Homo sapiens: one gene and its partners. The protein of the gene in region 1 interacts with the protein of each later gene in a biochemical or structural test. Each region holds a gene or a part of one and is shown on either strand. Other genes may lie near its edges.

Region 1 (7,137 bases):
CCACGATTTAGAGATCAAAGTTTACCTGGATGGAGCCATCTTTTTTTTTTTTTTGCTAGACTCCAGAGATCTGAAAGGTGAGGGAAGTTATGTTTCACTAATTCCTGAGTACTCAGAGTGTGGTATGTGCACCAATCAGTCAGAGCTAGTTAGAAATGCTGAATCTAGGCCGGGCATGGTGACTCACGCCTGTAATCCCAGCATTCTGGAAGGCCGAGGCAGGCAGATCACTTGAGGCCAGGAGTTTGAGACCAGCCTGGTCAACATGGTGAAACCCCCGTCTCTACCAAAAAATACAAAAATCAGCTGGGCATGGGTGGTGCATGCCTGTTGTCCCAGTTATTGGGGAGGCTGGGGTGGGAGGATTGCTTGAACCCAGGAGGTGGAGGTTGCTGTGAGCTGAGATTGCGCCACTGCACTCCAGCCTGGGTGATAGAGTGAGACCCTGTCTCAAAAAAAAAAAAAAAAAAAAGAAAGAAAGAAAAGAAAGAAATGCTGAATCTAGTTCCCACCCCCACCTACAGAATCAGAATATGCACTTAAATGAAGCCCCCAGTTATCCTCAAGCACCTGGAAGACTGAGAGGCAGTATTCTGCTCTGGAGCAAAAGGGTGTGACCATTTTGGCTGCAATGTGACCATTTTGGCTTCTCTGCCCTGGCAGAGGTGGGCTGAGGTGGGCTTTGGAGGAAGAGTCCACACCTTGGCTAATCGAGGCCGACCAGGCTTGCTTGACTTTAGTGGAAGTCAGCCAGGTTTCCCTGGCTTAGGGACTGTGAGCTGTACCTGCTCCACTGGACGACCAAACAGTGAGCTGGCTTTAGGCTCCTGGCACTGCTAGCTTCTTCCAGTGATCTCAGAAACATATGCTATGCCCTGATGCAGAAGTCCCTTCCCCACTCCCCCTACTGCTAAAGACCTTCAAAGGGAAGGGGATTTGCTGTGGTCTGTCAGCCCCCTGCCCACTCCCCACTTCCCAACCCAAAGTGAAAAGTGGATTTGAAGTTCCTATATTTTATATTTATTATTTATTTTAGAGATAGGGTCTCGCTCTGTCACCCAGGCTGGAGTGCAGTGGTCAATCATAGCTCACTACAGCCTCCAACTCCTGGGCTCAAGCGATCCTCTGGCCTCAGCCTCTGTAGTAGCTAGGACAACATTTTGTTGTTGTTTTGTTTGTTTCTTTGTAGAGATGGAGTCTCACTATGTTGCCCAGGCTGGTCTTGAACTCCTGGCCTCAAGCAATTCTCCTGCCTTGGCTCCCCAAAATGCTGGCATTACAGGTGTGAACCTTGGTACCCGGGCCAGAAGTGCCTATAAACAGTATCCTGGCTTCCAATTTGACCCAACAATCCAGCAATAAAGAGTGCAAAAAAGGGCTACCTGCGCCTTCAGGCCGGCCTCAGGGCCCACCCTGAACAAATCCAGCAGACACTTACACCCTCATTTGAAAGAACTCCAAAATTGTCAGGAATTGTCCTGGTAGACCATTGTGACAGAGACAAAGGAGAACAGCATGGACTACAAAAGACCCAGCAAGGGAAAGAGGATGAGTCGGGAATGGCAACAAGAGCCCCTGCGAGCTTTTCCTTGGCTCATTTCTAATAGAAAAGGAAGCATTTCTCCCTTCTCTGCCTGGTTGCTATTTCTTGTCCAATCTGGGAAAACGGTGTGACAATGGGCAACAGACACGTGTTCAAGCTCTGGGGCCTCAATGCCGGGCTCTGTAGAATAAGACGGCAGGGCTGGACAAGATCCCTAACCGTTCTAACAGTGTATGTTTTGGATCAAACAGCAGAGGACCTCGGATCTGGCCGCGCTCGCTGCTGGTGGGACAGCTGCCTGAGAAAATAAGCATGTGGCCCCCGCCCGCCACCTAGCCAAGCGCCAGGATCTGTCGCGTTTTCTAGTAGTATGGAAAGCAGCGTGGAGGAGAATGAAGGGAGAGGAGCAAAAAGGGGTGGGGGCAGTGCGACAATGAGAGGGGAGGAGAGAGCCACGAGGATTTATTTCATCATGCAAACAGGCGCGTAGGTTTCATCAGCGTCTGTGCGCTGGGGCTCCGGGGCTGGGAGGGAATGCCAGGTTCCTGAGGGCAGCCCGAGGCTGGCCCCCCCACCCGTGCCAGCTCAGCTTCCTCTTCCTCATCCTCTCCCAGGGAGGTCACACGGTGCCTCCTCCTCTCCCCGGACAGAAGAACGTGTTTTTCTGCACAGCCCTGGCCGTGGCGCCAGGGTCCCCCCCGCGGAGATCCCACTCGCGTAAATGGGGAACGTGCCACAGGTGCCCGGGAGGCGCTGCTGGAGCAGGCAAGCACCCCCAGATCCGAACCTCAGTCAGAGCGCGCGAGTCCAACACAAAACTCGGCGTGCTTCGGGAAGGAAAAAGGGCCCTGCAGGAATCGTTTATCCCAACAGATAATACCCATCCCATAAAAACACCAGGCCAGGCCTCTCCTGGATCGTGGGCCACCCTAACTCCGCCCTCTCCCGCTTCGGGAGCGCCCCCAACACCCACAAGGGGCAGCACAGCTCGGCATGTGGCTGTCCTGGAGGCGTGCGTGTTTGTTAGGTGTCAGCTGTCTGACACCTAACAGAAAGAGGAAACAAACGGGGCAGTTTGTAACTCGGGTCTGGAAGACGCACTCAGAGGGGAAGCGGGCGGCCACTTCCATGACCCTCGCTGTCTCTCCGATGCCCCTTTTCCGTTCTTTCCAATCACGGCGCCCTTGAGCCTGGACACCCGGTCCAATCCGCGATTCCCGATCCTCCCGCCCGCCCAGGAGCCGGCAAGCGGCGTCGCCAAGCCCGCGCCTACCTCCCGGGGTGGTGCTGAAGAGCGTGCCGCCGGGGGTCGTGCTGTAGTCCCCGGGCGGGAGCTGCACGCCGTCGCCGAGCACCACCCGGCGAGTGGCGGGGATGGCCCGGCTTGGGGTCTGGCTGCAGCTGCTGCCCCCGGACATGGTCTCCTGTGCGCTGCACCCGCGAACCTCTCGCTGCCCTCCCGCGCCTCCAGCCTCGCTCCGCCTCGCCCCGTGCCGCCCCGCCCCAGGACGCCCCTTCCGCCTCTCCCGCCCCACGCCCCTGGGATTTGTAGTCCGCGCCGCAGCCCCACCCAGCTCCAGGACGCTGCTTCCACGTGGGATCCCCCGCCGCCCCCCGACCCACTCCCGTCTGCTCACGGGCTCTTCCGCACGGGCGCTGGCGCCGCCCCGCAGCGACTGCCCCTCCGTCCGGGGTCCCTCCCCGCCACGCTGGCAGGGACGGATATGGGGATGGCGGGCGGGATAGCTCGCCTAAATTAATCCTTGGCTGGGTTGGGGGCGGCGACTCAGGACCGCGCGGAGATCCGAGCTGACCCGGCCCACTGCAGGAAGGCCCGGTTTCTGCATTAGGACATCAGGCCTGGTGTACCCTTCGGCACTCCCTGTTTCGTGCCTTAGTTCCTCAGATGAGAAAATGGGGATTGAGTAGTTATGCTCACCGCCCCCCGCCCCGCTTCAATTTCTTGACCTTGATGGGGGTGGGGGTGGAGGGGCTAACAATTCCGTTCCCGGCCTTTAGAGAGGGTGTGGGAGGAGGAGTGAACCAACCAGCGGCGTCCTGGGAGCTAAATTTAGAGCTGGGGGCGCAGAGGTGGGTGGTGGGGAAGGGCGTTGGAGAGGAGTAAGAGTGTCGAAGAGGTTTCCCGATAGCCCCTGAATTGAGTCCAACGTCCACCTGAGGTTTAGTAGGTACTCCTTGGATGGATGGATGGATGGATGGATGGATGGATGGATGGATGGATGTTCAAGGGGAGAGAGAAAAATGCAAGAAGGACCGAGGATGGAAAAGCTTGTTGGGTTTGAGAAGTTCTTAGCATTATGGGCACATATTGTGGGGAAGAGGGTGAAGAGGGGAGGGCAGTTTAAAAGGGAAATTGGGTGGTGCACCTGTAATCCCAGCTACTCAGGAAGCTGAGGCTGGAGGATGCTTGAGCCCAGGGGTTTGAGGCTCCAGTGAGCTGTGATCACACCACTGCACTCCACCCTTTGTGACAGAGACCCTATCTCTAAAAAAATATATAATAATTTTTTAAAAAGGAAATTGGGGTCAGGTCGTTGAGTTTTTCAAATTATGCCAAAGTGCTTGGACTTTGTCTTAGAAGGGCAGGAGATATCAGAGATCTTTTAAGCAGGGGGATGACATGATTTGAGTTGTTTTTTGGAAGGATAACTAGTAGCCAGTGGAGTTTCAGAATGGGCCAAGGAGGGCAAGGCCTGAGATAGGGAGACCTGTTGAGTTTGGTCTCACTTTTGAGGGAAACTTTAGGCCTACAGTGGCTAAGACAGTAGCCACCAGCTACAGGTGCACATTGAGCACTCCAAATGTGACCAGTCCAAACTGTCACAAGTTTAACATACACACCATATTTCAAAGACTTAGTGTGAAGAAAATCATGTAAAATACCTGAATAATTTGTTTCTATATTGATTGTATGTTGAACTGATAATATTTTGAGTATACTGGGTTAAGAAAAATACATTATAAAAATTAATTTTGGGCCAGGCGCAGTGGCTCACGCCTGTAATCCCAACACGTTGGGAGGCCGAGGCAGGCGGATCATGAGGTCAAGAGATCGAGACCATCCTGGACAACATGGTGAAACCCTGTCTCTACTAAAAATATAAAAAAAATTAGCTGGGCATGGTGGCGCATGCCTGTAGTCCCAGCTACTCGGGAGGCTGAGGCAGGAGAATTGCTTGAACCTGGGAGGCAGAGGTTGCAGTGAGCTGAAATCATGCCACTGCACTCCAGCCTGGCGTCAGAGCAAGACTCTGTCTCAAAAGAAAAAAAAATAAATTTCGGCTGGGTGCAGTGGCTCACGCCTGTAATCCCACCACTTTGGGAGGCCTAGGCGGGTGGATCATGAGGTCAGGAGTTCAAGACCAGCCTGGCCAAGATGGTGAAACCCTGTCTCTACTAAAAATACAAAAAAACAAAACAAACAAACAAACAAACAAAAACAACAGACCGGGCACAGTGGCGGGTGCCTGTAATCCCAGCTACTCGGGAGGCTGAGGTGGAGAATTGCTTGAACCTGGGAGGCAGAGGTTGTAGTGAGTAGAGATCTGCCACTGCACTCCAGCCTGGGTGACAGAGTGAGACTCCGTCTCAAAAAAAAAAAAAAAAAAAAATTAATTTCATCCAGGTGCTGTGGATCACACCTGTAATACCAGCACATTTGGAGACCGAGGTGAGCAGACTGCTTGGGCTCAGGAGTTTGAGACAAGCCTGGGCAACATGGTGAAACTCTGTCTCTACAAAAAAATTTAAAAATTAGCCCAGTGTTGTGGCTCACACCTGTGGTCCCAGCTACTTTCAAGGATGAGGTAGGAAGATGACCTGAGCCCCAGAGGTGGAGGTTGCCATGAGCCAAGATTGCACCACTGCACTCCAGCCAGGGCTCAAAAAATAAATAAATAATATAAGATAAAAATAGACCAGGCCTTGCTGGTTGCAGCGATGTGCACTTGTAATCCCAGCCCTAGCTGGGATTACAAGGCCAGAGGATTGCTTGAGGCCGGGAGTTCAGAGACCAGCCTGGGCAACATAGTAAGACCTTGTTTCAAAAAAGAGAGAGTTTCAGGCCGGGTGTGGTGGCTCACGCCTGTAATCCCAACACTTTGGTAGGCCGAGGGGGGCAGATCACGAGGTCAGGAGATTGAGACCATCCTGGCTAACACGGTGAAACCCCATCTCTACTAAAAATACGAAAAAAAAAAATTACCCGGGCATGATGGCAGACGCCTGTAGTCCCAGCTACTCGGGAGGCTAAGGCAGGATAATCGCTTCAAACTGGGAGGCAGAAGTTGCAGTGGGCTGAGATCGTGCCACTGCACCCATCCTGGGTGACAGAGCGAGACTCCATCTCAAAAAAAAAAAGAGTTTCACTCTGTTGCCTGGGCTGGAGTGCAGTGGCTAATTATAGGCACAATCATAACTCAGTGCAGCTTCCAACTCCTGGGCTCAAGCCATCCTCCCACCTCAGCCTCCCCAGTGGCTGGGATTACAGGTGCATGCCACTGCACTTGGCTAATTAAAGAAAAGAATTTTTTGGCCGGGCGAGGTGGCTCATGCCTGTAATCCCAGCACTTTGGGAGGCCGAGGCAGACAGATCACCTGAGGTCAGGAGACCACCTGGCCAACATGGTGAAACCCTGTCTCTACTAAAAATACAAAAATTAGCCAGGCGTGGTGGTGTGTGCCTGTAATCCCAGCTACTCAGGAGGCTGAGACAGGAGAATCACTTGAACCCAGGAGGCATAGGTTGCAGTGAGCCAAGATCCTGCCACTACACTTTAGCCTGGGCAACAGCAAGACTCCATCTCAAAAAAAAAAAAATTTTTGTAGAAATGAGATCTTGCTATGTTACCTAGGTTGGTCTCAAACTCCTGGCCTCAAGTGATCCTCCCTCCTCAGCCTCTTAAAGTTTTGGGATTACAGGCATGAGCCACTGTGACTGGCCCCTCTACCTTTTTCTAGAGCAGGAACTCATTCATATGGAAAAAACAGCTTTTATCTGAGGAATGGGAATCCTTTTAAATTATCAGGCCTAGACATTAAAATGAGACAGCAATCACGTCCCACTACCCCCTTTTGAGCTATGTATTCATCTCTTGAAACTGCTTGCTATTGTCACAAGTAGCCATAAATTAACCTATTAATAATAATGCTGCACTAAAGACTATATAGGGTGTGGACACTATAACTTAACAGTGTATAGCCAAGGCTGGGTGCAGTGGCTTACTCCTATGATTTCCACACTTTGGCAAGCCAAGGTGAGAGGATGGCTTGAGGCCAGGAGTTTGAGACCAGCCTGGGCAACAGAGAGACCCTCCCCCTTCATCTCTACAAAAAAATTTTTAAAATGTGGCCGGGAGTTGTAGCTCACGCCTATAATCCTAGCACTTTGCGAGGCCGAGGCAGGCGGATCACCTGAGGTCAGGAGTTTGAGACCAGTCTGGCTAACATGGTGAAACCCCGTCTCTACTAAAAATGCAAAAAGTAGCCAGGTGTGGTGGTATGCGCCTGTAGTCCCAGCTACTAGGGAAGCTGAGACAGGAGAATCGCTTGAACCTGGGTGGCAGAGGTTGCAC
Region 2 (7,027 bases), on another chromosome or scaffold:
TTCTTTGTTAATCTGTTGATAGACATATAAGGTGATTCTGTATTTTAACTATTGTGAACAGGGCTGCAATAAACATGGGAGTTCAGATATATCTTTGATATACTGATGTTCTTTTTTTGGATATATACCCAGCGATGAGATTACTGGATCATATGAAAATTCTCTTTTTAGTTTTTTAAGATACCTCCATACTGTGTTTCATCATGGCTGTGCTACTTTATATTCCCATCAGCAGTGTACCACCATTCCCCTTTTTCTGCATCCTTACCAGCATTTGTTATTTTTTGTCTTTTTGATAATAGCCATTCTGCCTGTGGTGAGATAATATCTCATTATGGTTTTGATTTGCCTCTCCCTAATGATTAGTGAAGTTTAGGATTTTTTTTTCATGTACCTGTTAGCCATTTGTCTGTCTTCTTTTGAGAAATGTCTATTTGGATCTTTTGTCCATTTAAAAATAAGACTTTTTTTTTTTTTTTTTTTTTTGCTAATTGAGTTTTTTTAGTTCCTTATGTATTCTGGTTGTTAATCTTTTGTTGAATGGATATTTTGCAAATATTTTCTCCCTTTCTTTATGTTGTCTCTTCACTTTGTTAATTATTTTCTTTGTTGTGCAGAAGCTTTTTAGCTTGATATAATCCCATTTGCCTATTTTTGTTGTAATTGCCTGTGCTTTTGAGGTCCTACCCCAAAAATCATTGCACAGACCAATGTCCTGTAGCATTTCCCCAGTGTTTTCTTCTAGTAGTTGCATATTTTCAGGTCTGAGATGTAAGTCTTTAATCCATTTTGAAATGATTTGTGTATATGGTGAAAGCTGTGGATCTAGTTTCCTTCTTTTGCACAGCCAATATTTGATTCTCACTGAAATCTCACTGCCCTCCTGGAAATATTACCGGATGTTTTACTGTCATAGCGAAGTGAGAGTAAGCTGCTCACTGAGGATCAAAGAGCTTGTGACAGACCTAAGACTCAAGTCTTCTCACACCTTCAAAATCTCTTTCCATCATACAATCTACTAGCTGCTGAATTCGCAAGCTTTTTGTGCAAGCTAGTAAAAAGCAAAATGGTTTGATACAAATACTGTGGCCATGCTAGGTACAATGACATCAATTTAAATTATCATTGGTCTTAACAAGGGGATGTAGAAAGGGGTCTCCTACTGACATTTTAATACTCACTTAAAAGTAGTATTTTTCCTTCAGATTTCTTTATATTATTAGTATAATTACTGTAAGTATCCTTTACTGCTTTATATGTTGAATTAGCTGGAAGTGCCAAAAGAAAAACTCTTAATGATAAATTTAAGGTATTAAGGTAAATTTCTCCTTCATTTAATTTAATAGTAATTCTTAATTACTATTTAAAATAAAGATTAAGGTTTGTTTCTAGATGCCATTTAACATGATATTCCAGACTGCCAGTTTTATTTTCAAAGTTTGTTTCATATTTTATTAATGTTTCTTCATAAATGACAGTCTTTAGAAAATTGACGGTTAAGCTAGGTGCTTTATATTTTTCTTTTCCTGCCTATCTTTTCACTGTGCTCCTAAATTTTACATCTCTTTATTCTCAAGGGTTCAACCTTTGAAGAAGGGGAGCAAAATAAATGAAAGTGGCTAAAATTTTTTCTTTAACCCCTAGACTCTTTCCTGTTGTGCATTAATTACATGCTTGAGTTTTTAGAATAATTATAATAAAGTAAAACTACCAATTTAATTGTATTGTAACTGTGCAAGATGGGAACCTTCTCTCTTAGAGAGATAAGCTTTTAATTGAATAGATTAATGGATCAATTGTTACCTCTGCTTTGCTGCCAGAGATTCTATTTAATCACAGAAGTTCCATGTAGTGCTGGAGAGCTCAGTTGCCTGAATCTTTTTGCAAAGCGTTTACTGATACTGTTGCTTCACCAACCAAAACAAACAGGTTTTTTCCTTGAGTCAGCTTTGTAGGTACAGAGATGAGTTTGGCATCCTATGTGACTTTTTTTTTTTTTTTTTTTTTTTTTTTTACCACCAGAAGCTGTTCAGAATGTTATTTTCTTAAATAGTTCGGAAAAAAGTCTTGATGTATTCTATGAAAGCACAAAAATAGTCAGTTTCTATGACAGCTGGATTGTCAACGTCTGTTCAGCTTACGTGGAGGAGGATGTCCTACTTGAGTAGTATAGGTAGAAATAGCTATCAGAAATTGCCGCCTTTGAAAGCAATTTGAAATTATGTAAAAGGAAGTAATGACAAAATAAAGCAATTTATGTTTAATCTGGAAAAGATCCAAAAGTAATATTGTAAAGAGATCTTGAGTAATCATTTTTATCTTCCTAAAATAGCCGTTGTTTACTCCCGTAAGCGAGTAAGAAACTTGTGCCATTATTCCTTATTGGGTGCATATAGATTTCTCACCTTGTCATTCAACTCCTTGCAATATTCAACTTTACTTATGCATCCAGCCTTATCCCAAAATAGCCTCTTCCCTGTAGCAGCTTCCTTATCATGTAGCAGCCTACTCTCCTCACCGCTCATCCGTTCTTATACAATCTGGCTTAAGCTCTACCTCTTCATATTATATTCTTCTCTGAGTAATTTCAACTCACACTGAGTCTTACTTTCAGTATTTCTATTATATTGGTATTTATTACACATCACACTTAGATACTTTTCCATTAGTCTCTAGAGGGTACATATATGCACTTTCTCTTTTTTTTTTTTTTTTTGACCATGTCAAGTATAGTTCTATAGTATAATAGAATGAATTGGAGATCCTTTACATTTAGAGAGGGAGGAGTCTACAGTAGGAAGAATAGGTTAATTTTCATCTCCGGTTTGAAATCAGGACTTTCAATTTTTTTTTCAGAGGTAAAGAGCAACTTAGTCAAGTTGGCATCTTGTAAACAGACTGAGTGAAGATATACTTAAAATGCATCTATAATTTCATATTTTATTTCGAAATGTGAAAGAGCCTACTAGGGGTGTCTGTGATCTCTAGACCTTATCAATTCATTCTAGAGAAATCTGGAGGGAGCCATTGAGGAGTTCTACCTCCTGTCTATTTTATAGAGCTCTTTCTCTTTTTCTCCTATCAGATGTAGATTCAATTGCTAAAAATGCCACGTTTCTTGCCTCTATTATTCTAGCTTCATTACTTGGGGAGCAGCCATTCTGATAACTTACATTTTGCTACTAAAATCTCCAACTTCACCTAATCCTTCATTATAAGCCACTTCATTTTTTCCTATAATTAAAATTTTAAATATGTGGAGGAAATTCTGTCAGGTAGATATGACTTAAAACCTACTAAGGGCCAGGTGCAGAGGCTCACGCCTGTAATCCCAGCACTTTGAGAGGCCAAGTCAGGAGGATTGCTTGAGCCCAGGAGCTTGAGACCAGCCTGGGCAACAGAGCGAGACCCCTGTCTTCACAAAAAAAAAAAAAAAAAAATTAGCTGGGTGTGGTGGCACATACCTGTAGTCCCAGCTACTTGGGAGGCTGAAGTGGGTGGATCACCTAAGGACAGGAGTTCTAGGCTGCAGTGATCTATGATTGCACCATTGCACTCCAGCCTGGGTGACAGAGTGAGACCCTATCTCAAAAACAAAAACAAAACCAAAAAAAAAAAAAAAACAAGAAAAAAAAAGTACTAAGGATCTGGTATAGCCATTCTTGCACTTAATAATCTTGGTACAACCTCTAAAACTATTTTTTATAGTTTATTTTATTTTGCCTTATTTAGACAATTGGCATGTCTATGTTCTTCATAATTTAGAAATTATATGTATTTATATATATAAATTATATATATTATATATTATGTATAAATTAAATTATATATATATATAATATATATATATTTGAAATGGATTCTTGCTCTGTCATCCAGGCTAGAGTGCAGTGGCACAATCTTGGCTCACTGCACCCTCTGCCTCCTGGGTTCAAGCGATTCTCCTTCCTCAGCCTCCCGAGTAGCTGAGATTACAGGCGCCCATCACCATGCCTGGCTAATTTTTGTATTTTTAGTAGAGACTGGGTTTCACCATCTTGGCCACATTGGTCTCAAACTGCCGGCTGAAATGTTGTATTTTTTGTATGTCTTTCTGGTATGATTTTTGGAGAAAGGTGTATCCTAAGAATACGGCTTGCTTTTGTTTCTGGGTAAGCATTTTAGGGTATCATTTTGTTGTATAACCATTGTTTACAAGTGAGATAAGCATCTATTCCACTAAGATTGAAGAGATTCATGTTTGACTGAGTATGCTCTATTAACATTCTTTAAAACATGTGAATATATGTCTTTCTTGTTTTCAGGTGGGTTGGTCACTTCTGTGCAAATTAATAGAAGTCTGTCCAGGTACAATGCAAAGCTTAATGGGACCCCAGGATGTTGGAAATGATTGGGAAGTCCTTGGTGTTCACCAGTAAGTATGATAGATATGTAAAACAAATGGCCTTGAGTATTTATTTGTACACATGACAACCTTCCCTTGATACACTGTGTTTGCAATCCAAGGCTACTCCTGTGGAATTCTTTAAAATACAGATATTTTTCCTTGAGTCAATGATTTACATTTATAGAGAGCTTTAAACTCAGAAGTTTGATTTAGAAAGCAAACATTTAAGGTAACATGTCAGAAGTTATTATTTTAATAATATAATCATATAATTATAAAACTGGTTAAGTTGTAGATTTTTGATGAGTACTTTTGAATTCAAACCATGAAGAGATTTTGGCTTTTAATAATAGAATCGATACAAACCACTAGTTCTTAAAAAAATGGGAACTGAGAAAAGTTAGTTCTGTAAGTAGTAATTTGAAAGTTGATGTTCTACTGTCTTTAAATAGTACATTTATATATATATTCCTATATATACAGTAAGTTTAAACTATGGCTTTCAGAAAGAGTTAAGAAAGAGGAAATTAACTTTCAGCACATCTGTAGCCAAATCTTGATAGTAATTTTACCAGCTATGTTTTTGCAGTTTGCAGCATAATGGCTTCTTAGATGAGACTACTTCCTTAGCCATCATTAATTAAGAAAATATTTTCTCAAGAAGAATGTGTTTCCAGGAAAATACATTTTGGATAGCTTTGTTTCTTGACAGTTAAAAAATATCTTCTAAGCTACTGAGGAGGCTGAGGAAGGAGAATCACTTGAACCTGGGAGGCGGAGGTTGCAGTGAGCGGAGGTTGCAGTGAGCCGAGATTGCACCACTGCACTCCAGCCTGGGTGACAGAGCGACACTCTGTCTCAAAAACAAACAAACAAACAAACCTTTTGTCATTAACTTTAAATCTTTTTTATACCTAATATGACTTTTCTTTATCACAGAAAAGGAAATTGTGAATATTTTTTGGCTTCCAATGGTATATGGTTTATGAAAATTTAATTTATGAAAAATTTTCAGGTGTTTGTATTGCTGATCAGTGTCAAGTAGTGCTATAAATTTAGACAAATTAGAGCTATGTGTTTGTCCATAAGTGAACATGTCTGTGCTTATACATTTTCCCCTCTTTGACAAATGTGTTGCTCTTCTTGTTTTCAGTACATAAAGGGTGTGTTTTGGAAAGAGCATATTTACAATTAATTGGAGTTCTCGTCTTCAATCTAATCTCTGTAATTCTATGTATCAGTTCTAAAGTATACAGCATTTGATGAGGAATTACTCAAAATATACCAGTAATTAGGAATTGTAACTTTAAATGTCCCTTGGTTTGGGTGATAATTTCCAGGAAGTCCAAAGATGAGCCAGTCTATAACCTCAGGGAGTGTTTGGGAAACTCATCTAGTCATATTCCTGTACAAACCAACTGTTCAAATTAAATTACATAAAAGTTTATGTAGGAAATTTCATTCACTCACTCACTTACTCATTCACTCACTTTGTTCATCCAGTCATTCATCTTCTATTCATTGAATGTTTTTGAAGCCTGTCCTCTGGGTCAGAAACCATGCAGTTGTGAAGAAGATAGACACACTGCTGTCTCCAGTGGAGTGTATTAGATCACTCCCAGCAAAAATTGATTGTAAAACAGATTTCTCTTTTTTCAAGGCCTTTTCCCTCCAAAGACTTACCAGTACTGAAGAAAAATTTCTTCCGTGGTAATAAAGTCAGGAATTGTGGGAATGGTATAGGGAGAGGTAGGGGCAGGGTGATTAGGAGGAAGGCTGGCAGAGAATCGAAGACTGGCTTCATTCAGGTCCTCCAATTGCCAAATGGAGATTATGCAACGTTTCTTGAATACATACAAAACTCTAGATGTGGCCAGCTCAGTCTTCTTCCAATAATGTAAAGCCAAACAATGCTTTGCAGGAATAGACTAGAGATTATATTTTGGGATTAATAACATAGGGATTAAAATCTTATCTTGAACTAACTAAACATTATTGATATGCTAAATTCACTTTTTTTTTTTTTTTTTTTTTTTTTTTTTAGACAGAGTCTTTCTCTGTTGCCAGGCTGGCGTGCAGTGGCGTGATCTCGGCTCACTGTAACCTCTGTGTCCCGGGTTCAAGTGATTCTCCTGCCTCAGCCTCTCGAGTAGCTGGGACTGCAGGAGTACGCCACCACGCCCAGCTAATTTTTGTATTTTTAGTAGAGACAGGGTTTCATCATGTTGGCCAGGATGGTCTTGATCTATTGACCTCATGATCCCCCCGCCTCGGCGTCCCAAAGTGCTGAGATTACAGGCGTGAGCAACGGCCACCGGCCCACTACTTTTTAATATATCATTAATTTCTCTTTTAAAAACAGTAGCAATCAATAATTTAAATATTCAAATGAATTCTTAATTTATATACACAAACTAACATCTTTATTATATCTCTATATTTTAATATATCAACATGTCTAAGATAATTTATAAATTTACATCATATATAAAAATGGGTTTGCTCTCGATGTATATAAGGCTTCATGATATTTTGAATATGGAGTTGGGTGAAAATAGTGAATCTGAATATTTGAATTTGAATATTTATTGGAAAATAAGTAGTGCTTTTAACTTTTTAAATGAGACACATAATAGTCCC
Region 3 (7,027 bases), on another chromosome or scaffold:
ACTAGCTGCATTTCAGTTGCTTAATAATTAGCCACAGGCAGCTGGTGCCTATAACCACCACATTGGATAGCACAGATATAAAACATTTGCAATACCACAAAAGTTCTAGTACACAGTTCTTACTTACAAGCCCAAACCACCAATTCCAAATGCAAAATGATCAATAAATAAGGAAAACAGGGAGAAAACTGGACACTCAAACAATGAGTACCTTCTAGAGCAAGCTTTTCCAACCCAGGGCCTGCGGGCTGCACGTGGCCCAGGGCTTTGGATGCAGCCCATCACAAATTTGTAAACTTTCTGAAAACATTACGAGATTTTTTTTTTGCAATTTTTTTTAAGTTCATCGGCTATCATTAGTGTATTTTATGTGTGGCCCAGGACATTTCTTCTTCCAATGTGGCCCAGGGAAGCCAGAAGATTGGACACCCCTGTTCTAGAGGTTGCATTTAAATATCATAAATAAGTGACAGGTGCATGTCTTTCAGGCTGAAGGAAGAGGGTATGAGGCCAATACATTCTCCAAAGGTTTTTTAAAGAGGAGTTCTGCAAATTAGAAGAACAGCGAAGAACAGAATATTGGAAAAGAAATTGTGGCCTATGTGACAGGTAGCTTTGGATTATATTCTCTGGGTCTTGGTTTCCCCATCTATTAAAAACAGGGGATTCAACTAGATGTTTTCTAATTAACTTTCTGATCTCATTGGTACTTTTCAAAAAAAATGAATAGAGATTACTAACATCTTCAAGACCAGCCAAGATTAAACTAAAATTCAACTGGGTTAAACTCTAGTTGTACTCAACACTAGCTGCAAACTAGAAGACTGTGCTTTGACCCATGACAACAAAATGGAGTCTTTGGGGTGGTCCCCAGGCATCTAGAGTTTTTAAAAGCTCTGCAAAGTGATTCTGACACACTATGAGGGTTAAGAACCACTATGCTGGAACACAAGTGACCGTATAGTTCAGGCAGGAAAAGATAATGGGAAACATTTTCCTCTTGTCAGGCAATCAAAGCTGTATCTACACAGATGGCAACTTACAAGAGAAAGGTTAAGTATATTACAAATAAAAATCCTTTGAATTCGACTTTTACAATCCAGGAGAGAACATCTGTCTGAAAAAGAGCCAAGTAGAATAAAATAAATAACTAAAACCAAAATTTTGAAATGAATTCTCATGTATTAAAAAATGAATCCCTTATTAAAAAGTTTAAACACTAGGTTGTTTATCTAAAGCTCACAGAAGAAAAAGACCTAAGCACAAAGGGAAGATTTCCTACAGGCAGAAAGTTAGCATTTAAAAGGGTCAGGGAATAGACAGGTGTCTGTGAGACAGGACCACAAAGGTACAAGACTCACACTGCTTCGAAAACTTTCTAACACTAGTCTGCCAAGGAGTTCCATCCTTTCCTACCTATCACAGAATTAAAAACAAAACAAAACATTAATGATTCATAGGTAGACAATTAAGTGAGAAGGTGAAGGGGTAATCTGTTTTGCAAGGCCATTACTGAACATGATGGCTAACATTTACTGGCAGGCTCGTCTCAGTACTTTCCAGTTATTTTCTGGCTGAATTCTTACGACAACCTTGTGAGTATGTATGATTATTATCATTTTACGGTTAAGGAAACTGAGAGAAATAGAGGTTAGGAAACTTACTCAAAGTTACATAGCTGGAAATAAAAGAGCTAAGATCTAAATCCAGGAAATCTGGCTCCAGAGCATGTGCTTAACCTGTATGTTATACTGCCTTTCCCTCTCTGCCACCTTGTGTGTCTACACCGGCATGGAGGTCTGTGACTGACTAAATGGTAGCTGGAGATACAGACACAAGAAGAGGAAGGGGAGCAGGGAACAGAGAATAGCATCAGGACAGCAGCTACTCTAGAGGACAAAGCAAGGATGGGACTCTGAGATATGTACCTGAGGAAAGGGGGAAGTATGAATTTTCCCTAATTCTCTTACCTTGGACTGTAATATATATATACCAAATTTCTGAGAAACAGATATAAGGTGAATGAAACAAAGGACAAAGGAGAAACACCAGGTATTAAACTAATTTAAAATCCAGAGGTAGGGAGTAATAAGGTAAGCTAAATACAGGGAGACTGAACTCTGTTATCAATCCTAATATTCAGAGAGAAAGAAACAGCTTTACCTGAGAAATAGAGGTTTTTTCAGTTCATAATGAAAGTACATTCTCTCTAGCAGAAGATAGTTAGAACACGTGGGTAGATATCATGAACATCATAGCCATTACAGAAGTATATCCCAAACTGTAAGCAAGTGAATTGACATTCTGGTTTATAAACTCAATTAGTTTATTTAGGTAAGGGACTAAAATGGCTTTTAGATCTCTAGGCATAATAGATCAGAGGTAGCATGTCTAATATTGCCTAACCAAAACCACCTGAAGGCTAGTTAACTCAATTCTATTAAAAAAAGAAAAAATCCCCAAAACTAATTCTAGACATATATTTTAACAATCTTTCTCACCTAAACATCTTCCATAAGTAGAACTGATGAGAGTTCCAACAGACCACATTTTTCATGACATTAATACTAAACCATGAAACAAGCATACCGCAGATAGGAAAGGAGCTAAAATAAAGGGGCTATAATAAACCATAAACTAGACAGTAAGTCTTGGAGTAAATTAGGGTTTGGCTGCAATCTGGGAAAAAGTTGTGCTGGAAAAACAAAAGTACATTACATGGTAAGCTTTTCACTTCTTGCTTTTACTATTTGTTGTCAAACAACAAACATAACAAGTAAGCAGTATATCACTGCAGGTACCAAACATAGCCCTTTTAATACATAAACATAACAGCAAGATGCCCTTCATTTATAAATGGGCATCTTGTGCTCATTAAGTGTTTATACAAGAAGACTAAAACTGTCACTGGGATCTGGAGTTTCTCATGAGTATGCTCAGGTCTCAGAACTGCTGTGGGATGATTAATAAGGGACTGTTGCAAAAAGAAGACAGACTTGATGGGTTTTTCAACTTATGAGGAATTTTTCCAACTCACAAAAGTAAACTGAAGCCTCTTTCTTGGCAAGGCAAGCTACTCAGTTTGAAGAAAGACCTCATAATGCATTATCTAGACTATAAAAGCAAAATACTGAGAGTCTTCCCTAGAGATAAGTAAAAGGAGTATACACCCATGGACACTGGAATACAGATAAGAAACAAGAATCCAAAACTTTTTAAAGGATACGGTCTGTACCAGGAAACAATGTTCTTCCAGTCAACAGCTCGGCCATTATGCATCCCACTGACCAAATATCAACTGGCAAAATTAAAAAGAAGTAAAAGTATATGCAATGTCACTGTTACAATTCTTGGCAACAAATGAAACCGTAACTAGGGGTGAAATATTCAAATTACTATTTAAGACATCTGAGGCTCAACAATCATACTCATTTTTACAGAAATAAATAGCTTACTAAGATCTTCACCTGACTAAAGGGCTGTTCAAAGGTGGGGTAAGTCAAAACACACTTAAGAGAAATAAGCTGTTTAAAAAGGGGCAAGTTTCTTATTAGTAGAATGGTAGATTCTTCCAAGTAACATTGAGGGGTTAAAATTATGGACTAATTGTCTTTAGGTATAAGTACTCAGAGAATATATTCAAAATCTAAATAAATAAAAACCCAATTGCTAAATCACAAGGTTTAAAAGCTGTGTATAAAACCCCACTTCCCCATCTGAGGAAGTGAAATATTTTTACTTGCAGGCTTTAAAAGGATCACTGAGGGAAGAAAAGACATTTCTTCCCACTCCCACCATCTCTATTTCTGAGAATCCCAAATGCATCCAACATGGAATTAAATAAGGCCCTAAATAACCAAGGCGAGTAATACCTGTCTGGTTGTAATGCATCCAGTTCAGCATGATCTCAGGAGCCCTGTACCACCTAGTGGCCACGTAGCCTGTCATTTCATCATCTGTGTGCCGAGCCAGTCCAAAATCCAGAATCTAAAGGGCAGAAGAGGAACAGACAAACTGCTAAGACTTAGAAACAGGCAGGGAAAAAAAAACAAAACAACAACAACAAACAAACCTCTGTTGCCTTATTAAAAAGGAGAACAAAATAGCACTTTCATAAAGAGATTTCCTGGTCCATACTTAGAATGTATGGTAAATATACAGCAAGAACTTAAAATGAAATTACAAAAAGCAAAACAAAAATGTCACTCCCAGGTATTTAATCAAGTGCAATGAGAACTTACGTCCATACAAAGGTTTGCACATAAACATTCACAGTTGCTTTACACAGCCTCAAACTCAAGCAAATGTCCATCAGCAGGTGGATAGATTTAAAAATTCTGTTATGTTCATAAAACAAAATACTATTACCAATAAAAAGGAAGAAACCACTGACACACACAACAATACCGAATCATTACACCAAGCAAAGGCCAGACACACAAAAATACACACTATATGATTCCATTTACATGAAACTCCAGAAAAGATAAACCTAATCTATAGTGTTAGAAGCAGATCCATAGTTGCCTGGAGCCAGAGTTAGGGGTGGAGGGGTAGGGATTGACTAGGAAGGGACACAATAAACTTTTTTTTTTTTTTTTTTTTTTTTGAGACGGAGTCTTGCTCTGTTGCCCAGGCTGGGGTGCAGTGGCACTATCTCGGCGCACTGCAAGCTCTGCCTCCCAGGTTCACGCCATTCTCCTGCCTCAGCCTCTCAAGTAGCTGGGACTCCAGGTGCCCGCCACCATGCCCAACTAAATTTTTGTATTTTTAGTGGAGATGAGGTTTCACCGTGTTGGCCAAGATGGTCTCTATCTCCTGACCTCATAATCCACCCGCCTTGGCCTCCCAAAGTGCTGGGATTACAGGCATGAGCCACCACGCCTGGCCATAAACTTTTTAAAGTAATCCAAATGTTCTTGGCTGGGAGCAATGGCTCACACCTGCAATCCCAGCACTTTGAGAGGCCGAGGCAGGTGGATCACGAGGTCAGGAGATCGACACCATCCTAGCCAACATGGTGAAATCCCATCTCTACTAAAAATACAAAAATTAGCCGGGTGTGATGGCGTGCACCTGTAGTCCCAGCTACTCGGGAGGCTGAGGCAGGAGAATCGCTTGAACCCGGGAGGCAGAGGTTGCAGTGAGCCAAGATCACACCACTGCACTCTAGACTGGGCAACAGAGTGAGACTGCATCCCAAAAAAAAGGAAAAAAAAAGAAATGGTCTTTATCATAAATGTGAGTTAAGTGGATATATAATTTTGCCAAATGAAATGGTGCATTCTAATGTACAGACATTTTTTCAAGTTAAAAAAATGAAATGGAACAAAAGTTCTAGAGCTGCTTGCTATTTAGAAACAATTAATTCACTTATTTTTTATTTGAATTATTTTGAGTGAGTGGGTTTCTGCCATTTCTCCTCTTAGAAATGTATTTAATCTAGTTATCACCTCTTTGGGCCTACTTACTTGATATTTGACTATTATCCTCCTTTATTATGACTAATATATCAAATTTATAATTTAACTTTATGTTAAAATAAAAACAAGTGATGCCACTTTCAATGTCACTTAGCTTACTCAGAAATGGTTTAAATTTCAAAGTCTGATAATAAAAATAATACGAATTTCAGATAGTCATGGCTCACAAAGCTACTCCCTAAGAAAGTCTGCCTGCTTAGTCAAACATATAATCTCAAAGTAAAGCAAACAATGAATACTGTCTCTTCATTTTACCTTCAGCTCACAGTCTTCATTCACAGCTAGATTACTAGGTTTTAGGTCCTAGGAAGCAAATACAGGGAAGACAGGATCAACTTTATGATGCATGATCAATTCTCCCCCTACAGGTAATAATGAGGATCCAGACATAAAAGACTTCATCCAGCTATCAAAAGACAATCTCCATCCTACAGTCAATATCCAGTCCAAGTTAGCCTTACATAGAAAAAAACTACACATCTTCTTTCTTTAATCAGCTTAAACCTACAGTAAAGTTGCAATCAATCAACATTTCAATGGCTAAAGTTTAGATTAGGATCTTGGCTAAATGCCATTCTTCCACTCTCACCCCACTTCCCCAAAATAATGTAATCAAAGTCACAATACATACCCTGTGAATTATGTCAGCTGAATGTATATACTGCAAAAGAGAAAAAAGTCAAAGTTACCTCCAACCTTCTATTGTCATATTATATAACATATTTGCTGCACATTTTCATGAATCAGTAAGAACTGCTAGTGTTAATAGTAAGATTAGAAATCAGCATAAGTAACTATCAGTATTGTGTACATTTACCATTACTATAATTTCCACAGCCATTGACTCCACTCAGTTGAGCTTTTAATCTATTTTCTGGTTGGCACTCTGGAGCTCAATAAGGACTCAAAGCAGCTAAATATCAAAGATGGGTTTAATTTTAAAACACTGTTTATCTGCCCCTCCAACAAATAAATTAGTCTTTCTTGAGGATTTTTTGAAAATCTCAACATTACGCTGACCAGATATTAGATTACATCAATAAATTATTGTTTAGATGTAAGAATGAAGAGTCCTTATCTTTCAGATATGCAAACTGAAGTATCTATGGATGGTATTATATAATGTCTAGACTTGCTTTAAAATAATCCAGGGCTTGGGAAATACAAAAGAAACATGATTGGCCATATGTCGGTAACTGTTGTCACTGAGTGAACATGGCAGTTTACTGTACTATATGACCTTTACCTGTGATTTTATGTGTTTGAATTTTCCATTAGAAAAGTTGTTTACTTGTTTGTTTAAGCCCTAAAAGGAGGGGAGAAAGGGAGAATTCATTTTAAAAAATTATTACTTGTATTATCTGTACCTTTAGACCTCGGAGAATTTGGTAGATAAGGAACTGAACATGGTCATCTGTAAGCTTCTGACATTTCACAATGTTGTTCAGATCTGCCCCCATGAGATGGGTCACCAGATACCTAGAAATTAGTGAAAAGTTACATAACAATCTAGAACCCCTAAGAAAGTTCTTATCTTCAGAAGA
Region 4 (7,027 bases), on another chromosome or scaffold:
TATTTGAAAAAAAAATTTTAAAGAATAGGGTATAACACTTATTTACATAGCATTTACATTATAGTAGGTATAATATGTAATTAGAGATTTATGTATAACCTGTGCACATTCTCCTATTACACGTAATCTAGAGGTTATGTGTAATACTTTTTGGAAATGTTTAATAAAAGCACAATCTAGAGGTTACGTGTAATAGGAAAATGCCCTGCCATTTTAAATAAGGGACTTTGAACATCAGCATTATCAAGGTGTCTTGGAACCAATTTTCTGCAGATACAGAGAAACTACTGTAGTTATTTTTCCTAAAAATTGTTATTTATGATATATAGTAGATTTATTATTTTTGAATAAATTAATACATTTTAGATTTTTCTCAGTCTTTCTAATATGATATCATATCTAATATCAGTAGATATGGTCCAACGATCGAAAGTTCTTTGGGGTCTTCAATAATTTGTTTGATTGTAAAGGAGTTCCGCAAAAAGTTTGAGACCTGCTGTGGTAGGGTCATTTAGAGAGGAATTGAAGTTTTGGTTCCTAGCATTTTTGTTACTGTTCCTTCCCTATCAAGCAACTAAAAGAGCTTTCATTTCTTAGTCATCACTTTGTCATCTTACTCTCCCTGCTTCCTCTTTCTTATTTCTTTCAATAAATGTCCCTGAAGGATTGGGTAGTATTTCATAGTTCAGTTATTTGGGAAGGATACTATTCATATAAACTAATTGTGCAATATGCCTTTTCTGTTCCTTTAATAATGTTGGTAAATGAAACCTTTGCCAGATGCCAGCTTTTCCTTCACTGGATTGTGATTTTTTTGACAGCTATAATTATGCATCAAGTCATCCCCAGTAGGGGGTCCCTCATTTCCTTGCTGACATGTCCTCATTACTACAGGCAGTATTGAAGCAGGACTAAAGATGGAGGCATTCTTTATGATAGGTCTGATGAATATGTTCTTGTTTCAGAAGAGTATTTAGAAGGGCTGCTTTTTGTAATGTCAGAGTATTAAAAATTTTTTTTGATGTTTGTCATCTGTGACCTCTCTGCTAATAACTCTTAAGAGCTCTGACCGCATAGCATTTTGTAGTTTTCTAAATTTTGATCCATATGTAGGATTATTTACAAGTTCTAGTCTTGTCACTACAAAAGTTCCTTTGTATTATTATAATATTATATCGTAAGTTCCAGAACTTACATAGTTTTTTTTTTTTTTTTTTTCATTTCTCTTGCTTACATGAACTCTATGTCGTGGCATTCAGATCAGTCACACATAGACAACTCTCTGAAGTATATATTAAGTGGCAGAAACACTCCCAGCTTCTCAAGGACAGTGATTTTAGTTTTCAGGAGCCTATCATGGCTCTACGCACAGTCATTTTGGAGATCCTGATGGAAAAGGAAATGGACAACTCACAAAGAGAATGTATTAAGGACATTCTCACCAAACACCTTGTAGAACTCTCTATACTGGCCAGAACTTTCAAGAACACTCAGGTAAATACAATTTAAAACTATGTCATCTTACCTCTTGACTTTCCTTTTATTATTTAAAAAACAGAAAGCCTGAGGGAAAAAGAAATGTCATTAAGAGATAGAGATCTCTATTAATATATAGTAAAAATAATTGTTTAAGAGTTCCCATTTTGGAATTAGATCTGACTTTTAAGCCTTGGGCAAGGGTACTTAATCTTTTCTCAACCTCAATTTCCTGGTTATAAAATGAGAAGATACGTAACTTACTATATTGATAACAATTCAGTGATTTTATATACTGTGTGTATGTACACACAGATACACATACATACATATAGAGAGAGACAGACAGACAGACAGATAGGCAGACGTGGGGTGGGGAGATGTCATGCAGACAGAGAGGTCCTTAAGATAGTCCCTGACAAGTAGTTAAGTCCTCAATGAATGGTAGTTGCTGCTTTCATTATTATTATTATTCATGGTAGTAGTATCAGTAGTAAAAGTATTTATTCCCATATGTCATTTTCATTTCAGCTCCCTGAAAGGGCAATATTTCAAATTAAACAGTACAATTCAGTTAGCTGTGGAGTCTCTGAGTGGCAGCTGGAAGAAGCACAAGTATTCTGGGCAAAAAAGGAGCAGAGTCTTGCCCTGAGTATTCTCAAGCAAATGATCAAGAAGTTGGATGCCAGCTGTGCAGCGGTTTGTTTTTTTTATTGGCTGGATTAGTGTTTTACTGTTATTTAAAAAAACACAAATGTACTTTAAAATATTTTTAATAACAATTTTATTAGAGCCTTGAAATTAGTAATTTATTAACAAGATATTGTAAAACTAGTCTTGAAAATTAATTTGTAAATGAAGTTTAGAAACTTTTTCCTATATATCACAATTCTATCAGTCCATCATGTGGTCGATTCATTTAATATATCCCAGTATTAAGCCTTTAACTTCCTATAGAATTCAAGAAAGGTATGTGGGAAATGAATGAAATAGCTACTCTAAATTTGAAATGACAAGTGAAAAAAGGGAAGAGGAAATGAATGAGAGAACTAAATTAGAAAATAAAAGCAAGTTGGGACAATTAGGTTGTCAATCCAAATGCTTTGAAAATATCACATCTAATATTTTATCTAACATTACCTGTTGGTTTTTGCAAACTTATGTTGCTACTTCAGCTGTAAACCCAGCATACACACTGGATAAAGTAGAGGCATTGGTGTCCCCAAGGTTTGTCTACAGTGGTGTCCCACAGACATGTACCTGCTTAGTGAATATCAGCTCACTGTGCTTTATTATTTATTTATTTATTTATTTTTTGAGACGGAGTCTTGCTCTGTCACCCAGGCTGGAGTGCAGTGGTACGACATCGGCTCACCGCAACCTCCACCTCCCTGGTTCAAGCAATTCCCCTGCCTCAGCCTCCCTTGTAGCTGGGATTACAGGCACATGCCACCATGCCCAGCTAATTTTTTTGTATTTTTAGTAGAGATGGGGTTTCACCATGTTGGCAAGACTGGTCTCGAACTCCTGAGCTCAGGCAATCTACCCGCCTTGTCCTCTGAAAGTGCTGGGATTACAGGCGTGAGCCACCACGCCCGGCCTTTACTGTACTTTTTGATGTTGGGCACTCATTGTATAGCATCTTCTGTTATTAGAGAAATCATTATACCAAAGCACTGAGTGCCAATATGATATGTGTAAATATTGCTTAATAGTATTGGCCCTGAAGTATGTGCTGTCTGGAGTTACCCAACTTCCTTGTACCTCAGTTTTCTAATCTGCAAATTGGGGTAATAATAGTACTTATTTAATAGGATTCTTGTGAGAATTAAATGAGTTAATATATATAAAGCCTTTACAAAGTGTCTGACATATATAAGTACTCAATAAATGTGACTTGCTCCAATAATGGCAATAATAATAATAAACAGAGGATGATCATTTCCTACATGGGATTATTAAAATAGTTGTATGGCAAAAGCAGATGAGGAAAAACTTTTTTTTTCCCACCCACCAAGGAAAAACATTTTTAACCTGCTTTTTTCCCCGTACATGAAGGGCAGTTGGGTACAGTCATGGTAATGCATTATATTTTAAGATTTTGCCTTTCTTATACAGAACAATCCCAGCCTAAAACTTACATACACAGAATGTCTGAGGGTTTGTGGCAACTGGTTAGCAGAAACGTGCTTAGAAAATCCTGCGGTCATCATGCAGACCTATCTAGAAAAGGTAAGATTTTTGGAGCAACCCTTAAGATAGTTACTTAGCATGAATATGCTTCATCTTTTCATCAAGATCAATATATTTCCAAAGCAAATAAAAGTATGGTTTTATTTTTCTATATATTATTACTGTTGTAGCTCTGTATAGTCTCTAGGGTGGAGTGAAACATTGTTACAAAACAAAGCAGCCAATTTTGAAAGTAAGCCCAAGTATAGTATCTCTTCTTCCTCCTTCCTACCTCCACTACCAGCTACCCTTTCAGCAGGTTGCTTCTGATCATTTCTTCATTTATGCATCTACAAAAATAACTGATTAAGAATAGGCAAGTCAGCCCTTGCTCTTCATTAGCCCAGCCACCCACAAGTAAAGGCTTCAATATACTAGCCCCTTTGACTTTCCTGTTTCTCCCTCTTATTCCTTTAGATTCACTAATTTTGGAAATAGTTACCTCACTAAATAAGTGTAACATGAAACACATGATGCGATTGTCTTTCTTTTCTTTTCTTTTCTTTGAGATGAAGTCTCTCTCTGTCGCCCAAGCTGGAGTGCAGTGGCGCAATCTCGGCTCACTGCAACCTCTGCCTCCTGGGTTCAAGCGATTCTCCTGCCTCAGCTTCCCAAGTAGCTGGGACTACAGGAGTGTGCCACCACACCCGGCTAATATTTTTTATTTTTAGTAGAGACGGTTTCGCCACATTGGCCAGTCTGGTCTCGAACTCCTGACCTCAAGTGATCCACCTGCCTCGGCCTCCCAAAGTGCTGGCATTACAGGCTTGAGCCACCACACCCAGCCTGATTGTCTTTAAATTTTATAAAGTTCTCTGTTTTTGCAGAGTTCTTTACAAGTATTAGCTGTCTGGGTTATTTCTACACTGTCAAAGTTGTTTTGAAAAGTCAAGAAAATACCATAGTTCAGGGCTGTCCAATCTTTTGGCTTCCCTGGGCCACATTGCAAGAAGAATTGCCTTGGGCCACACATAAAATATACTAACATTAATGATAGCTAATGAGCTTAAAAAAAATCACAAAAGAAATCTCATAATGTTTTAAGAAAATGTACGAATTTGTGTTGGGCCACATTCAAAGCCGTCCTGGGCCACATGCGGCCCATGGGCCGTGGGTTGGACAAGTTTGCAATAGTTCATATAATTTAGCTAGCTTTTATATGTATATAAGTTAAATTTTAGTGTATTACCTTAATTTGAGTGATTCTTTAGATGTATTTAGTATTTGTAAATATAATTTAAATTGGTTGTGTTTTCTTGAAGGCAGTAGAAGTTGCTGGAAATTATGATGGAGAAAGTAGTGATGAGCTAAGAAATGGAAAAATGAAGGCATTTCTCTCATTAGCCCGGTTTTCAGATACTCAATACCAAAGAATTGAAAACTACATGAAATCATCGGAATTTGAAAACAAGCAAGCTCTCCTGAAAAGAGCCAAAGAGGAAGTAGGTCTCCTTAGGGAACATAAAATTCAGACAAACAGGTAACTAGGTTTCTACAAGTGACAATTTTATGTTCACCAGTTAACTGAGTGAGTGTTTTTGCATAGAAAGAGTGACTTGGTCTTTTTATCTGATATAGTTTTGAGCTCTAAAGGTCGGCTTAACTATATATAGATTATCTTGGTCTTTTGGGTTCTTTTCGGTTTTTGTTTTTTGTTTTTTTTTTTGAGACAAGGTCTCACTCTGTCACCCAGGCTGGAGTACAGTGGCGTGATCACTGTACTCCAGCTCACTGCAACCTCGACCTCCTGGACTCAATTGATTCTCCCCCTGAGCCCCCGAAATAGCTGGGGCTACAGGTGCACGCCATACCTGGCTAATTTTTGTATTTTTTGTAGAGATGGGGTTTTGCCATGTTGCCCAGGTTGGTCTCAAACTCATGGGCTCAAACGATCTGCCCACCTTGGCCGCCCAAAGTGCTGGGATTACAGGTGTGAGGCACTGTGCCCTGTCTGTCTTGGTCCTACTGTAGTTAATCACAAATTAGTATGTAAGATATTGACGTGTTCTTTTGTGAATAATTCATGCTCTGCTTCTAAGTTCATTGTGGAGAATATAGATATTAGCTTTCTGTTTTGCTTTTTTGGTTTGTTTGTTGGTATCATAGTGGAAAAGGAGATAGATATTGAAATTAATTACAAAAGTTACCTATTTTGATGTAATTAAATCCCTTTATTTAAGCCTGTCTTGAATCTGTATATTTTAGTGTAAGCAGAGGTGTAAGTTAGCTAAATAGCTTGGGGAGAGTCCCCTTTGTCCTTTGATGCTTAGGAAGGTGTGTGAATTGCACAGTTAAGACAAAAGTAAGTTTATTCCCTTTATAATCCTTAGAAGTTTGCTTTTTTCCCTGGGATAAAAACCCAACTTTTTTCATTAAATGTTGTATATCATGTGTGATTTTGTAGTTCTGTTAAAGTTCATGGCTTTTGTGTTTTACCTTAATTATTCTATGCAAGATACACAGTAAAGGTTCAGCGAGAGCTGGAGTTGGATGAATTAGCCCTGCGTGCACTGAAAGAGGATCGTAAACGCTTCTTATGTAAAGCAGTTGAAAATTATATCAACTGCTTATTAAGTGGAGAAGAACATGATATGTGGGTATTCCGACTTTGTTCCCTCTGGCTTGAAAATTCTGGAGTTTCTGAAGTCAATGGCATGATGAAGGCAAGTGTTACTCAGCCCAATATTCTACCCTGTGCTTGAAAAACTTAGACATAAGCCCCTTGATGTCAGGAATCGTGTATACCTCTTTGTATTCCTAGCACTTGGTCCAGTGCTCTACACATAAGTAGCATTTTGTAGTTTTCTAAACTTTGATCCATATTTAGGATTATTTACAAGTTCTAGTCTTGTTTCTACAAAAGTTCCTTTGTATTATATAAGCTGACAAGCTGTAAATGATGCAAGTTTGTGTGGAGGTGATAGAATTTAGCTTGGTCCTATGTCTTTGCAGTTACCATAGGAGAGGGTCTAGAATGGGGCATTAGATTGGAGGATTTAGAAAGCAGTTAAAGATGATGTGATCACAGGTGGGTTTTCCCCCTGCTGCAGAAATATGGGATTTTTACAATAAATTACTTTTGTAAGTAGAGAAAATATATTTTTCAGAAAATGTCAAGACAGCAGTATTGTATAAGTTTTTCTTTGAAAACCTTAGATTATAGTGATGACACCTAATATTAAATTTAAGTTGACAAGCTATATATTGTTAGTCAATTTGAAGGTTAGAGATAAAATGTTTCTCCTGCAGGAAAATAATAAGACTCATAATAGATACAGTCAATCTCTGCTGTAGTATACACTAAATATTACTTTTGGCC

What was found.
Region 2: of the proteins of EIF4EBP1 (region 1) and LRRK2, one has a biochemical effect on the other in vitro, tested with the Homo sapiens proteins (3 studies listed by BioGRID).
Region 3: of the proteins of EIF4EBP1 (region 1) and MAPK14, one has a biochemical effect on the other in vitro, tested with the Homo sapiens proteins (one study listed by BioGRID).
Region 4: of the proteins of EIF4EBP1 (region 1) and ATM, one has a biochemical effect on the other in vitro, tested with the Homo sapiens proteins (2 studies listed by BioGRID, with this or other methods).

Annotation. Positions count from the first base shown.
Region 1 is NC_000008.11:38,026,398-38,033,534, reverse strand, and holds the start of EIF4EBP1 (eukaryotic translation initiation factor 4E-binding protein 1), read right to left. Parts: upstream 3,002-7,137; 5' UTR 2,962-3,001; coding exon 2,817-2,961; intron 1-2,816. UniProt on the Homo sapiens protein: Repressor of translation initiation that regulates EIF4E activity by preventing its assembly into the eIF4F complex: hypophosphorylated form competes with EIF4G1/EIF4G3 and strongly binds to EIF4E, leading to repress translation.
Region 2 is NC_000012.12:40,227,970-40,234,996, forward strand, and holds part of LRRK2 (leucine-rich repeat serine/threonine-protein kinase 2), read left to right. Parts: intron 1-4,304; coding exon 4,305-4,414; intron 4,415-7,027. UniProt on the Homo sapiens protein: Serine/threonine-protein kinase which phosphorylates a broad range of proteins involved in multiple processes such as neuronal plasticity, innate immunity, autophagy, and vesicle trafficking.
Region 3 is NC_000006.12:36,072,808-36,079,834, reverse strand, and holds part of MAPK14 (mitogen-activated protein kinase 14), read right to left. Parts: intron 6,963-7,027; coding exon 6,851-6,962; intron 6,145-6,850; coding exon 6,115-6,144; intron 5,787-6,114; coding exon 5,739-5,786; intron 3,988-5,738; coding exon 3,873-3,987; intron 3,299-3,872; coding exon 3,227-3,298; intron 2,001-3,226; exon of another isoform or gene 1,971-2,000; intron 1-1,970. UniProt on the Homo sapiens protein: Serine/threonine kinase which acts as an essential component of the MAP kinase signal transduction pathway.
Region 4 is NC_000011.10:108,324,051-108,331,077, forward strand, and holds part of ATM (serine-protein kinase ATM), read left to right. Parts: intron 1-1,259; coding exon 1,260-1,494; intron 1,495-2,007; coding exon 2,008-2,175; intron 2,176-3,594; coding exon 3,595-3,708; intron 3,709-4,970; coding exon 4,971-5,188; intron 5,189-6,163; coding exon 6,164-6,371; intron 6,372-7,027.